Homo sapiens: one gene and its partners. The protein of the gene in region 1 purifies or fractionates together with the protein of each later gene. This does not show direct contact. Each region holds a gene or a part of one and is shown in the gene's direction. Other genes may lie near its edges.

Region 1 (3,500 bases):
GTTTGAATAGGATCCAAACAGTGCCTACACATTGCATTTAGTTGATGTGTATCTTAAGTCTTTTAATATGTGAATTTCTTTACCTGTTTTTGTTTTGTTTTCCTGCTATTTGTTTGTTGAGAAATCCAGCTGATTTGTCCTATAGAATTACCCACAATAATCCTCATTCTTCAATTATGTTCCTGTATCCCAAGTTTCCTGAACATTTATGGATCAGAAGATTTGACTTATTTTCTGGCAGGAATACTTCCTAGGTGGTGCTGTATACTTCTATTGTATCAGGCCAAGAGGCACATCATATCTGGTTGTCTCACTTTCTGTGATGTTAAGAGTGATCACTGGCTTTAGGTATTGTGATGCTGATTCCTCCTATAGCCTAGCCATCAGCCTAGGTTAGTTATTTCATTATCCTTCTCAAACTGTGGTACCTAATCTATCATTTTTTTCTTTGCACTTATTAGCTATAATTCTTCTATTAAGAACTTTCACACAATACCTTTTGATTTCTCCCTGAGGTATATCATAGAGGAAAGTCAGAAAGATGCTTTATTCTTTCTTTTTATTTACTAATATTCAGAAAAATGAGTAGCTTCCCTAGCATCTTCTAGTAGTGATCAATGGAGTACCTTCTTTTGGAGTATCATTATGATATGATGGATTTTAACATATTTTGTAAACTTTCCTGTCTTTAGCTATTAAAGCCCTTGCAGCTCTCCTTGTTTGCCCTTGATGTGACCTCACTAGTATCCATGGCTTCCTTACTTTCAGGTACTACAAGACATTTTCTTCTCAGACCTGGCATCAGCCAGTTTTCCCATGAGCCACCATTTCTGTCAGTGGCAGATGCTCATTGCTACTAGATTGGCCATTGTATTTTGGCCTTTTTACTGAAGAGAATTAGGCTACAAAAATTTTTTTAAAGAGAAAAGAAATCATGAATTTATATTAATTTTTTAAATGGAAACAAGATTAGATTTTTTTTTACTTATTTGATATTAATCTTTTAGTTTGAGAATCTTGGTTTCAAATTATTGATTTGTTAGGAATAAAAGTACCAAAGGTATAATTAAAAATGTGATTACTGAAAAGAGTTTAAGATTTTCTTGCAGTTCGCTTCTTCACAGGGCAACCCCCAGAATTGGGGCTCAGCCCAGGAGGCCATGTGGGTTCTTGGCTTTGGGCAGGAAGGAATTCAAGAATGCTCCAACAGAGTAAAGTGAAAAGAAGTTTACCTTAAGAAAGTAAAGGGATGAAAGGGTGGCTGCTCCACAGGCAGAGCAGCTGTGAGGGCTGCTGGTTGATTGTTTTTAAGGTTATCTCTTCATCATATGATAAACAAGAGGTGGATTATTCATGAGTATTTTGGGAACAGGGAGGGGAATTCCTGGAACTGAGGATTCCTCCCTCTTTCAGACCATACAGGGTAACTTCCAGAGGTTGCTATGGCATATGTAAACTGTCATGCTGCTGGTGGGAGTTTCCTTTAGTATGCTAATGTATTATAATGAGCACTAAGGATGACCAGAAATCACTTTAGTTGCCATCTTGGTTTTGGCAGGTTTTGGCTGGCTTCTTCACCGCATCCTGTGTTATCAGCAGGGTCTTTGTGACCTGTAACTTGTGAAACCAGTCCTGCCAAGTTCCTGGGCTCCATTTTAACCTTAGGATATAGTCCACTAGGGATATACAGTAAAATTACAGTATCTTAATGTTACTTGAAATCTTCTTCCAAGTTGATAAATAGTTAATTCCTTTCTTTCATTTTTATTTTGATATTTAGGGATTTTTAAATTTTTGTTTTATAATTAAACATATGTTTCCAAAATCAAACCTACAAAAGAAGGAAGGTATAGTTTCCTAGGGCTGTCATAAAGAAGTGCAACAAGCTAGGTGGCTTAAAACAGCAGAAATATATTCTCTCACAGTTCCAGAGATTAGCAGTGGGACATTAAGGTGTTGACGGGCATCTTGTCTCTGAAGGCTGGAGGGGAGAGTCCTTCCTTGTCTCTTCTCAGCCTCTGGTGGTTGCTGGCCATCCTTGGAATTCCTTGGCATGCTGATGCCTCACCCCAGTCTCTGACCCCTCTTCACATGGCCTTTTCCCCTGTGTGCCTGTAGCTTTGAGGCCAAATATTCCTCTTTATGTAGGTACATCAGTTGTGTTGGGTTTAGAGTCCACCTTAATCCAATATGACCTCATCTTAACTTGATCACGTCTGCAAGAATCCCATTTCCAAATAAGATCACTCCACAGGGTCTGGTGGACATGAAATTTTAGGGGACACTATCCAAATCAGTACACAAGGAAACATAATTTTAAAAATAGTGGTATCAGAGTCGATACATCAGAGTATCAAGACCATTTTTTTCTTTTTCAATAAGTTTCTGGATAGGCATATCTCTTTTGTATTTGTGAGTCTTAAACCCAGTTTAAACTTTGGCAGCTACTGGTACTGGCTACCAGGGCAGCTCCAGGGAAAACTGAAGATGCAAATACAAGACGTAGATTTATCTTGTGTTTCTGTCTTCCCTCATACTGCCACTTAGACTCTCCGTTAGGCTTCTAGTATTTTCTTGTTTTTTTTTTGTCTCACATATTATTTCACCCTTGCTATCTTTCCAAAGTAGTGTGCCAAGCTAAAAACTGTCTCTTTTCTTCAAAAGAGGACCACTCCCCACCCTTATCCCCAGTCGCACAGGGTTCTTACCTTATGCTGACTTGATAGGAGGGAAAATAATCTGTAAAATTAGGTGGCACCCGAGTGAAATTCATATGTAATAATACATCAGTGTGTAGCCTTCTCAACACATTTGCATTTTTGCATGTAAATCCGGAGGAAAAATGACTGATAGTGTCATTTTGGGGATTAAAATAAGCAGTTAGAGGAGTATTTTTGGCTTGAGATTTCTTGGTTCATGATAAATTTTAGTTCCATAATAAACCACTCACTCTATTCATAAGATAGCATTTTCTAAGAGTGATATTAGTATAAGTAATAGGATTTTCTAAGTTGAAGTATGCTGAGTCGTATTATTTTTTAAATGCTGAAACTTTTTGAAGCTATTTTGCATTCAGTTATTTCAATTAAGATGCATTTATGTGAAAATACATAGTTTTTTCACAACTTTAGGATTTATCAGTGATCAGAAACCTGTGAAATTCATTGTATTAATAGCTATTACTTAATTGCTTTGTTTTTCAAAAACAGTGTATTTACTTAGAAGTGGCATCATAATTATGTACCTTTTGTTATTTTAATTGAGCATATCTTTATTTCAGGGACTATATTATTCCTATTTCAAGACTATTGTGGAAGCACCCTCATTTTTGAATGGAGTATGGATGATTATGAATGATAAACTGACTGAATACCCCCTTGTCATTAATACATTAAAAAGATTCAATCTTTACCCTGAGGTAAGGTACTTTTTCCAATTGTGATTTTTCACTTTTGTAAAAACTTTTTTGTATTAAACGCTGATTCTAAATCTAAGATATA
Region 2 (3,500 bases), on another chromosome or scaffold:
TCCCAGAGTGTTTCCTACTCATTGATTTAGGAATACTGCATTGTATTATCCTTTTTTTTTTTTTTTTTTGGGAGACAGAGTCTTGCTCTGTTGCCCAGGCTGGAGTGGAATGGCCCAGTCTTGGCTTACTGCAACCTCCGCCTCCTAGGTTCAGACTATTCTCTTGCCTCAGCCTCCCGAGTAGCTGGGACTACAGGCACGTGCCACCCCACCCAGCTAATCTTTGTATTTTTAGTAGAGACAGGGTTTCACTATGTTGGCTAGGCTGGTCTTGAACTCCTGACCTTGTGATCCATCCACCTCGGCCTCCCAAAGTGCTGGGATTACAGGCGTGAGCTGCTGCACCTAGTTGGTTTTTCAGTTTTAATATTTGGTTTTTTTTGGAGACGGAGTTTCACTCTTGGTGCCCAGGCTAGAGTGCAGTGGTGCGATCTCAGCTCACTGCAACCTCTGCCTTCTGGGTTCAAGCGATTCTCCTGCCTCAGCCTCCCAAGTAGCTGGGATTACAGGTGTGCACCACCACACCCGGCTAATTTTTGTATTTTTAGTAGAGATGGGGTTTCTCCATGTTGGGTCAGGCTGGTCCCAAACTCCCAACATCAGGTGATCTGCCCACCCGGCCTCTCAAAGTACTGGGATTACAGGCGTGAACCACCACGCCTGGCCCAGTTTTAATATTTCTAAAAGATGGATTTTAATCAAAGTGTATTCTCTGTGAGGCAACAGTGTGATATGGCCATGAAATAAAACAGATTTGATCTTAGGCTGCTTTGGTGGAAATATGGTAACTAGGATGAGGGAAAGAGAGAGATAGTCCTGCTCTCCTCTGCACCAAGGAGTACACCTCAAACAAGCCGTGGATACTGCTTGTTTGAGGCATCATCCTTTAGGGTTAAAAACAAAATGGAGCTCATTCAGAAGAGAGCAACTTGTACCTAGTGGGAATTCAAGTCCCTGCCATTATTATCATAATGGCTGCTGTTTAGTCAGTGTCTGCTCTGTGCAGGCACTATACAAAGATTTTGGGACACATTTCTAACACTCATATGAACCCTAAGGAGCAGTATTTATTTTATTGATAACAAAACAGATTTCAAAAGATTAAATAACTTGTCCATGTTATATACTTAATAGCAGAGCTGGGAATTAAATTTAAATTTGAAGTATGATTGACTAAGCTGGGAATGTGTAGCCAAGAGAATAGAGAACTCAGGGCAAACACAATACATATTTTGTGACTTTCTTGAGGTCTAATTAGTTAGATGTGTTTTAGTTAATGCTGAGGACAGGAAATAAACCCTGTGGATGGAGTTGAGAGATACCACCTCAGAATAAAGAGCTAAGAATCACAGCTATTCAAAGATGGATTAGACTGCTTTGGGACAGTGAGTTCTTATCACCAGGAAGTATTCAAGCATAGGTTAGCAATTGCTGGGTGGATATTGTAGAGAGGATTTGAGATTTAGTTTGCAATTCAATCACCTATCTTTAACATCCTTTCCACGCCGTAGATTTTATGGCCTTCTTTCATTAAATGAAGGCTAGAAGGGACATTGAAATAATTTGGTACTTTCCTTTGCCTCCAGAGAGAAGAGAAAAAATATGATTTCTCCTATAAAATAGCAATTGAGGTGTGAGCCTAATAGTCTTTTTTTTTTTTTTTTTTTGAGACGGAGTCTTGCTCTGTCGCCCAGGATGGAGTGCAGTGGCGCAATCTCGGCTCACTGCAAGCTCCGCCTCCCGGGTTCACGCCATTCTCCTGCCTCAGCCTCCCGAGTAGCTGGGACTACAGGCGCCCGCCACCATGCCCGGCTAATTTTTTTTTTTGTACTTTTAGTAGAGACGGGGTTTTACCATGTTAGCCAGGATGGTCTCGAACTCCTGACCTGATGATCCGCCCACCTTGGCCTCCCAAAGTGCTGGGATTACAGGTGTGAGCCACTGCGCCCAGCCCCTAATAGTCTTTTGTATACTTAATTTCAGGTGGGAGGGACTTAATTGTAATCTTTCAGAGCTTTGGACTTGGTATCAAATTATGCTGTCCTATTTGAACTGTAAAGTTAAATACTTGTGAGTTTAGTAAGAACATAATGTACATCCCATTATCTGTTTTTAATTGCCTGAAAAATGTGTTTTGTATATCATGTTAGTTTCCTATTGCTCTTGTAACAAATTACCACAAATTTATTGGCTTGGGCTGGGTGTAGTGGCTCACGTCTGTAATCCCAGCACTTTGGGAGGTTGAGGCAGGTGGATCACTGAGCTCAGGAGTTCCAGACCAGCCTGCGCAATATGGGAAAACTCCATCTCTGCAAAAAAAACCCCACAAAAATTAGCCAGGCTTGGTGGCTTGTACCTGTAGCCCCAGCTACTCAGGAGGCTGAGGTGGGAGAATCACATGAACCTGGGAGGCAGAGGTTGCAGTGAGTGAGATCGTGCCACTGCACTCCAGCCTGGGCTACAGAGCAAGACCCTGTCTAAAAAAAAAAAAAAATAGTGGCTCAAAACAACTCATACTAAAAATCCGTCTGCACTTAAGATTTTCCTGCAAGCCCTAACGTGTACCGGACAACCTGTTCAGACTCTCATGGTTGGGAATATCCTCTGATGATCTGACTCCCCTAGTCTATGGATTAAATTGATAGAAGATCTGATTTGTATAGTAAACTCCTCTGTTCATACTGGTATTGACTGTTCCTGATTCAAGATGACAGCTACAATGGTACTGTCAAAAACAGCTACGTGGGGCTGGGCACGGTGGCTCATACCTGTAATCCCAGCACTCTGGGAGGCTGAGGCAGGCGGATCTACGAGTTCAGGAGATGGAGACCATCCTGGCTAATGCGGTGAAACCCGTCTCTACTTAAAAAAAAAAAAAAAGCCAAGAGTGGTGGTGGCCACCTGTAGTCCCAGCTACTTGGGAGGCTGAGGCAGGAGAATGGCGTAAACCTGGGAGGTGGAGCTTGCAGTGAGCTGAGATCACACCACTGCACTCCAGCATCAACTGGGACCACTTGAACCCGTCCCGGTTCAAGCGACAAAAGCAAGACTCCGTCTAAAAAAAAAAAAAAAAAAAACAGCTACATGGGAATTTGTTCCTCTGCCGCATTGTGCAGTGACTGGTTTCACCCAGTACTTTGATGTGAGAATAAGCACTTTCCTCATATCAGGAATATTGTGGGTGTTTCCTGTTACTCACGGCTGAATGTAATCTTCGGTACATTACCAATTATGTTTGATTGTATGTGATTAAAAATAATGTGCACATTTTTTCCTCAAAGTTGCTGGACATGTTTCTTCGAAAGCAGTTAATAAACAATTTCTAACAATTTATCTACTAACAAATACTGTTTTTTTAAATTTACTGAGAAGAAATATTAAAATATCTCATTGACAGTCATGGATCAGATAAACTTTATAATTAGCCTTATAATTTTGCTGATTATTTGACATTGTGAGTCAGTATTCACAAAAGTTGAGGCATTTTTTTCTTCATGTAT
Region 3 (3,500 bases), on another chromosome or scaffold:
GTGGTACATATGAATAAAAAATATTGCTCTGTCTTTTCTGTGTTTTTTTCATTCAGAATTACTAGAAATAATAAATATGATTGACTATGGGTTCATGATCATTGAACTTTACATCACTTGCCTTTTTGTTTTGCATGTAGGAATTGAACAAATCTCTGTAACCTCTTTTTACAGTATACTGCACCTGAAACCGGTCGTATCAGGAAAGGAAATGATAAAGCAGAGGATTTTATTTTTCAGTTCTGAAACAAACTTCTAACCATATCTTTGTGCCCGAGGCCCCAGTTTTAACAGTTGACATGCTGGTGAAAGGGAAGAATTGCAGTTGTTTTAGTACCCTAAATGTACAAGGCAACTTTTTTCTTCTTTCCAAGAATTATATTTTGGGAATCCTCTTGGAATGTATTATCAGGTGATAGAATTATGGCTCCCTTTAAATATGTTTTACAGGAAAATTTGGCCAAATATTCTTGTTTTATTTTCATATTTTTAGGTGCAGGTGGTACCATTATAACGAATTTTGAGAGGTTGGTAAAAGGAGATTGGAAACCAGAAGGTGATGAATGGCTGAAGATGTCATAGTAAGTTGGTATAAATTATACTGAGACCTAGATGTTTATCCTTAGATCTTACCAAATTCCTTTTTAAGAACATTTTAGGGACTTTAAATGTGGGTGGAATATAGCTGAAAATATAAATAGTAATGATAATGGGAAGAGAACTAGCAAATTTTGTTCTTTTAAAAAGTCTGCTTTCTCAAATGTAGTTTAAAATATATATTTTCCTTCTCTGTGGGTTTCTCTCCTTAGAAAACAAAATCAAACAAAAACCTCTAGATTATAGTAGAATTGTGGGAAAAGTATATATTTATAAAGTGAAAGCTACGTAGGAATAGACTTCTCTGGATGAAAATGAATCGGTGATAGGCTCTTGGCATTTTCATTAATGACTATGACATCATCCAGATTTCAGGCTATATATGTAGTTCTGATAGTAAAATGTTAAGTTTATGGGATCAAATCAATACATTATCATAAAGTGCTTTGAGTTGCTTTAAAAAATGTCAGTTGAGCTTAATTACAGATTAAAATAAGAGAAAGATTAGAGAAATAACCCATTGTGTGATACAAACTGCCTTTTGCATCTATTTAAGATAATCTGTTCTCTGAAGACACTGACTTAGTCTTATTTATTACTTTTTTAAAGAGACAGATTCTGTTGTTCAGGCTTTAGTGCGATGGTGTAGTCATAGCTCACTGCAGCCTAGACCTCTTAGGCTCAAGTAATCCTCCCACTTCAGCCTCCCAAGTATTAATAGTTGGGACTACAGGTGTGTGCTATCATGCCTGGCTAATTTTTGTAATTGTATTTTTTTTTTTTTTTTGAGACAGGGTTTTATTCTGTCACCCAGGCTAGAGTGCAGTCACTGCAGTCTTGATCTCTTGGGCTCAAGTGATCCTTCCACCTCAGCCTCCTGAGTAGTTGTGACTACAGGCATCTGCCATCATGCCCTGCTACTTTTAAAAATTTTTGTAGAGACAGGGTCTCATCTCAGTATGTTGCCTTGGCTGGTCTTGAATTCCTGGGCTCAAGCGATCCTTGTACTTTGGCCTCCAAAAGTGCTGGGATTACAGATGTGAAGCACCACACCCAGCCAGTATTTTTATTTTTGTAGAGATGGGGTCTTGCTGTGTTGCCCAGGCTGGTCTTAACTTTTGCCTCAAGTGATCTTCCTTCCTTAGCCTCCCAAGGGGCAGGGATTACAGGCATGAGCCACTGTGCCTGGCCGAACTCAGTCTTTATTTTGTTTTGAGTCAGAGTTTCGCTGTTGTCACCCAGACCAGAGTGCAATGGTGTGGTCTCGGGCTCACTGCAACCTCCGCCTCCCAGGTTCAAGCAGTTCTCCTGCCTCAGCCTCCTAAGTACCTGGGATTTTGGGCGTGTGCCACCATGCCCAGCTAATTTTTGTATTTTTAGTTGAGATGTGGTTTCACCATGTTGGCCAGGCTGGCCTCAAACTCCTGACCTCAGGTGATCCACCCACCTTGGCCTCCCAAAGTGCTGGGATTACAGGCTTGAGCCACTGTGCCTGGCCCAGACTCAGTCTTAAATAAGTCACAGATACGTTTCTCATGTACCTAAAAATGAGGTAGAGAAGTATAGTTACTGTTCCCATAATTCAAGAAGGAAAAGACTTAGAGAATGGTGGCTGTAATAAGCAAGGTGAGGAAAGACTTCATGTAAAAATAAGCTCATTTTCTAATTTAAATTGGATTAAAAATAGATTATAATGGATTGAAAATGAAGGTTGAGGCTGGGCACGGTGGCGTATGCCTGTAATCCTAGCACTTTGGGAGGCCGAGGCAGGCGTCAGGAGTTCGACACGAGCCTGGGCAACATGGTGAAACCCCGTCTCTACTAAAAATACAAAAACTAACTGGGCGTGATGGCATATACCTATAATCCCAGCTACTCAGGAGGCTGAGGCAGGAGAATCACTTGAACCTGGGAGGCAGAAGTTGCAATGAGCTGAGATCGCACCACTGCACTCCAGCCTGGGTGACAGAGGTGAGACTCTGTCTCAAAAAAAAAAAAAAGAAGAAGGTGGAAAGGCAGTACAAGTGATGAAGTACATTTGTGTGAACTAACAAATTTCGGGATATTTAACTTGAAAAATACCCCTTTAAGTTTGAATGAAGTAGTTTAGAAATAGAACAAAGGAAGCTTTGATTAACGATAAGTTATAAATAAGATACTCTTGATATTCAGGGGAGATTTTTCTCATTTTGAGTATATGCCTTGAAACACCTTCCATAAAACATTTTTTTGGGCTTTTATAACCAAAATCAAATTATGTTTCTACTTTGTTCAGAAACCTTGCATTGATTCCTCCAAACGGCCTATAAGTCCCTCCAAATGTGCCTTTCCTCCTTTCCAGTTTGCTTTGATTTCATCTCTTGTTATTATTTCCCTTGCTCACTCTACTCCATGCTTGAGCAAGTCAAGTATGGTCTAGTTTAGCACTAGCTTTTGTCACTACCTAGAACGATTTTTCTTAGATGGCTAACTCCCTTATTTACTTTGCTCAAAGTATTTTCTCAATGCTTCCTTCTCAGTGAGGACTAACCTGCTTAAAATTGCAACACCTCGTTCTATTTTACTTTTTTTACAACATTTATCACCTTCTAACATGTTATGTAATTTACTTAATCATTATGTTTATTCTCCCCTCCCCTTGGCTCCTCCTCCCACCCTTCAACGAATATAAAATGCTAGGGACAGATATTTTTGTCTCTTTTGAATGCTCTTGTGTCCCAAGCACCTAGCACATAGTAGATAATACATACTAGATGACTGTATGAATTATCAACAACTGGGTCAAGTGAGATAGATCACTGGTTCATTATGATGGTTTGTGTTTATGTATATAGTCATGTGTTGCTTAACGATGGGGATATGTTCTCAGAAATGTGTCATTTCATCATTATGTGAATGTTATC
Region 4 (3,500 bases), on another chromosome or scaffold:
GGTACTATTTCTTCACTCACCAGCACCATGGTTGCTTGGCTACTTTTCCAAAGGCCAAATTTTGGACACTAATGCCCTAGCTATAATTTTTTTGACCTGTAGTGTTTTAAATTAGTACCAACAGAGTAGATGCACTAGCTTATAACACATAATATAAGCTATAACAAATCACGTTTGGGAAATGTCTCTGTAGAACTGCACTGATCTTGCAGGTGTCCTGCAGCAAGAGCACCCGACTTCTTCAGTAGGAATCATCACCAAAACCATAGAGGATAATGTTTATGTAAAGGGCCATGTGGAGACTCTTTAAGGGAAAGATGGTGACATGATCAAGGTGATGATCACCGAGGCATATAGCATGCGACAAAGAAACTTTGGCACAATTCAGCATCAGCTTTTTTAAGTTGCATTCTTTAGAACAGAAAATGGAAAACAAAAAGGCAGAGATTGATGGCTTATATGACACTAACATACATATACATTGAGACAGAGAAGAAATTTTTTTTTTTTTTTTTTTGAGACGGAGTCTCGCTCTGTCGCCCAGGCTGGAGCGCAGTGGCGCAATCTCGGCTCACTGCAAGCTCCGCCTCCCGGGTTCGAGCCATTCTCCTGCCTCAGCCTCCGGAGTAGCTGGGACTACAGGCACCCGCCACCGCGCCCGGCTAATTTTTTGTATCTTTTAGTAGAGACAGGGTTTCACCGTGTTAGCCAGGACGGTCTCGATCCTCTGACCTCGTGATCCGCCCGCCTCGGCCTCCCAAAGTGCTGGGATTACAGGCGTGAGCCACCGCGCCCGGCGAAAAATTTTTTAAGTACTAGAAATAGTTGTCTATCAATGGTTTGCAGACTATTTTTCTGCTTAGTTGTATACTACAAAGTGTGAAAAGGATTTGCCAATGAAGCCACATGCTATGGTCTGTGGAGGGCCCGACTTATGAGCTGAAGTTTTGGCCCTTTGTGTTTCAGTATGGCTGTACCGCATTACATTATGCCTGTGAAATGAAAAACCAGTCTCTTATCCCTCTGCTCTTGGAAGCCCGTGCAGACCCCACAATAAAGAATAAGGTAAGGGAGGGTGGACCGTGGTCTGAGGTTCCTCTAGCAGCAGCATCTTCTAATCTAGGCCTTATGTTGAAGTAAATTATTTGCCTCTGACGTAAACAACAGTAAAATTAATCATCCTCATTAAGGAATGAAGTTATCCTATTACTATTAGGACTGATTGCCTTTTAAAGCCCTTGCCAACACAGAGAGTCAATTGGTCTAAGCTACGTACGAGATCTTGGGCACTCTATTGGAAATAACTGTATATTTTTCCCCCCTCAGCATGGTGAGAGCTCACTGGATATTGCACGGAGATTAAAATTTTCCCAGATTGAATTAATGCTAAGGAAAGCATTGTAATCCTTGTGACCACACCGATGGAGATACAGAAAAAGTTAACGACTGGATTCTATCTTCATTTTAGACTTTTGGTCTGTGGGCCATTTAACCTGGATGCCACCATTTTATGGGGATAATGATGCTTACCATGGTTAATGTTTTGGAAGAGCTTTTTATTTATAGCATTGTTTACTCAGTCAAGTTCACCATGGCCGTAATCCTTCTAAGGGAAACACTAAAGTTGTTGTAGTCTCCACTTCAGTCAGAAACTGATGTTTCAGCTAGGCACAGTGGTACATGCCTGTAATCCCAGCTACTTGGGAGGCTGAGGTGGGAGGATCACTTGAACTCAGGAGTTTGAGAGCAGCCAGGGCAACACAGCGAGACCCTGTCTCAAAAAAAAAAAAAAAAAAAAAAGCCCTGGTGTTCCAAACTCAGTCTTTCCTGAAGAAGAGGATCTGAGTTATCTTCTGAAACAGCGTTCTCCCTTCCCAGTTGTATCACTCTTATAAAAAGACTGTCCAGTCTATGTCATGCCCTAGGAGACAAACTGTTCCTCCCAGCCCCCTTTGAGTATTGAGCAGAAGAATCAAATTATTAAATACGTATGTTTGTACAGAATGGTATTTGTGTATGTGTGTGGGCTTAGAGATTCACAAGTAAATATTCCTTTGGTGAAGGAATTTCAATAAAAACATCTATCAAGTGTCAGCGGTGAGTGTGTTTACACCACAGAAATTGGCAAATTGACAAATCAGAGTTTGTTTTTGTTTTTTTGTTTTTTACTTTCCATAAAGTTCGTTTACCAGCATACCACTAGAGATTTCGGTTTACAAATAAAAGCCATCTTGGTTTGAGCAAGACTATGCAACTATGAAAATGTTCGTTTAAAAAAATCTTCATGATCCTTTTGTAAATACAAGGTGGTTGCCAAGCTTGTTAGTTTTGTTTATTTTATTGATAGATGTAAAATATTATTGTAACTTATTTGGATAAAGTTCTTCAAAAGAAACAGAGCTATACAATGAGGTAGGATCTGGATTATTTGTCTAAGTGAGAGATTGCGAATATCAAAATATCTGTCTCACTTCTTCTGTGAATGACACAGAGTAGAAATAAATTCACTTTAAAAATATGACTGAATTTTGAAAATCAAGACTGAATCTCACATAGCTGCAGACAGGAACTAAGCCAGCCTCTTTGTATGTGGTAACAAGTACAGTATAAGAATGAAAGATTTACCATCCTTGAAAGCTCTAATGAAAATCAAATCCAGCAATATATATTCAACTGTGTACAGGATTTAAGAAACTTATTTTATGAAGGAAGTAATAGTGTGTAGATATAGATTCTGAAGTCTTTAAACGTGTCTTAATAAATTAAGATTCACTGGCATTGAGCTGAGCTACCAGGTGACCCTTGGGGACAAAAAACCCACACAAGTGAATTTCACACACCAGTATACCTTCAACAATATACTTTTGACACACACAAACCTTTGATTTGGTTTCAGAGATTTTGCAAAATAGTACCAATGTAATTTACAACTGTCATCTTTGAAATTGTGTAAAAGTGGAATAATTTTCTGAAGAAATAAATCATGGTTTGTCAATGAGTTGCAGAGACTGTCTGACATTAACTTTGTCAAGATTAAAGGATAAAGTATATGACAATTTGTTTCATCATGCTCATGACATTATGCAATTTTCTCCCTAGCTTTTAATTTTTGGAGGCAGAAAATTGAGCCAGAAATTTTTAGTCATTAGGTCTCCTAGCAACAAGCTGTAAACCTTCCAACAAGCTTGGACTAGAATCTAGACACTGAAATGCACATACATGCTTTATGTAATGCAGAATGCATTTATTGGAGAACTCATAAACATCCTATAAAATTTTCTTCCCTGAGATGCAACTATAAAACTTGGCCTTATTCTGAGAATGCTTAACATAGATTTCATCCATACTGTAACACTGATTTTGTTGTTGTTGTCCTTAAAGCAGCTCAGCTTCCTGAGGTAGTGTTATGTCTCTGTGGCAACAAGGTGAAAATGTCTAGCTTATTTTGTCAAAGTCAACAATAATCCACAGACTCCAGACCTCAATATCTGTCCCAATTT

Evidence for each region. Proteins that work in one complex are often made in the same cells at the same time.
Region 2: the proteins of DPY19L1 (region 1) and ACBD3 purify together in Homo sapiens (pull-down; one large-scale study listed by IntAct). This does not show direct contact.
Region 3: the proteins of DPY19L1 (region 1) and TMEM38B fractionate together in Homo sapiens (co-fractionation; one large-scale study listed by BioGRID). This does not show direct contact.
Region 4: the proteins of DPY19L1 (region 1) and ANKRD22 purify together in Homo sapiens (co-immunoprecipitation; one large-scale study listed by IntAct). This does not show direct contact.

What each region holds. Positions count from the first base shown.
Region 1 is NC_000007.14:35,013,486-35,016,985, reverse strand, and holds part of DPY19L1 (protein C-mannosyl-transferase DPY19L1), read left to right. Parts: intron 1-3,280; coding exon 3,281-3,418; intron 3,419-3,500. UniProt on the Homo sapiens protein: C-mannosyltransferase that mediates the C-mannosylation tryptophan residues on target proteins.
Region 2 is NC_000001.11:226,176,742-226,180,241, reverse strand, and holds part of ACBD3 (Golgi resident protein GCP60), read left to right. Parts: intron 1-3,500. UniProt on the Homo sapiens protein: Involved in the maintenance of Golgi structure by interacting with giantin, affecting protein transport between the endoplasmic reticulum and Golgi. Involved in hormone-induced steroid biosynthesis in testicular Leydig cells.
Region 3 is NC_000009.12:105,722,041-105,725,540, forward strand, and holds part of TMEM38B (trimeric intracellular cation channel type B), read left to right. Parts: intron 1-493; coding exon 494-581; intron 582-3,500. UniProt on the Homo sapiens protein: Intracellular monovalent cation channel required for maintenance of rapid intracellular calcium release. Acts as a potassium counter-ion channel that functions in synchronization with calcium release from intracellular stores.
Region 4 is NC_000010.11:88,820,845-88,824,344, reverse strand, and holds part of ANKRD22 (ankyrin repeat domain-containing protein 22), read left to right. Parts: intron 1-966; coding exon 967-1,065; intron 1,066-1,326; coding exon 1,327-1,404; 3' UTR 1,405-3,500.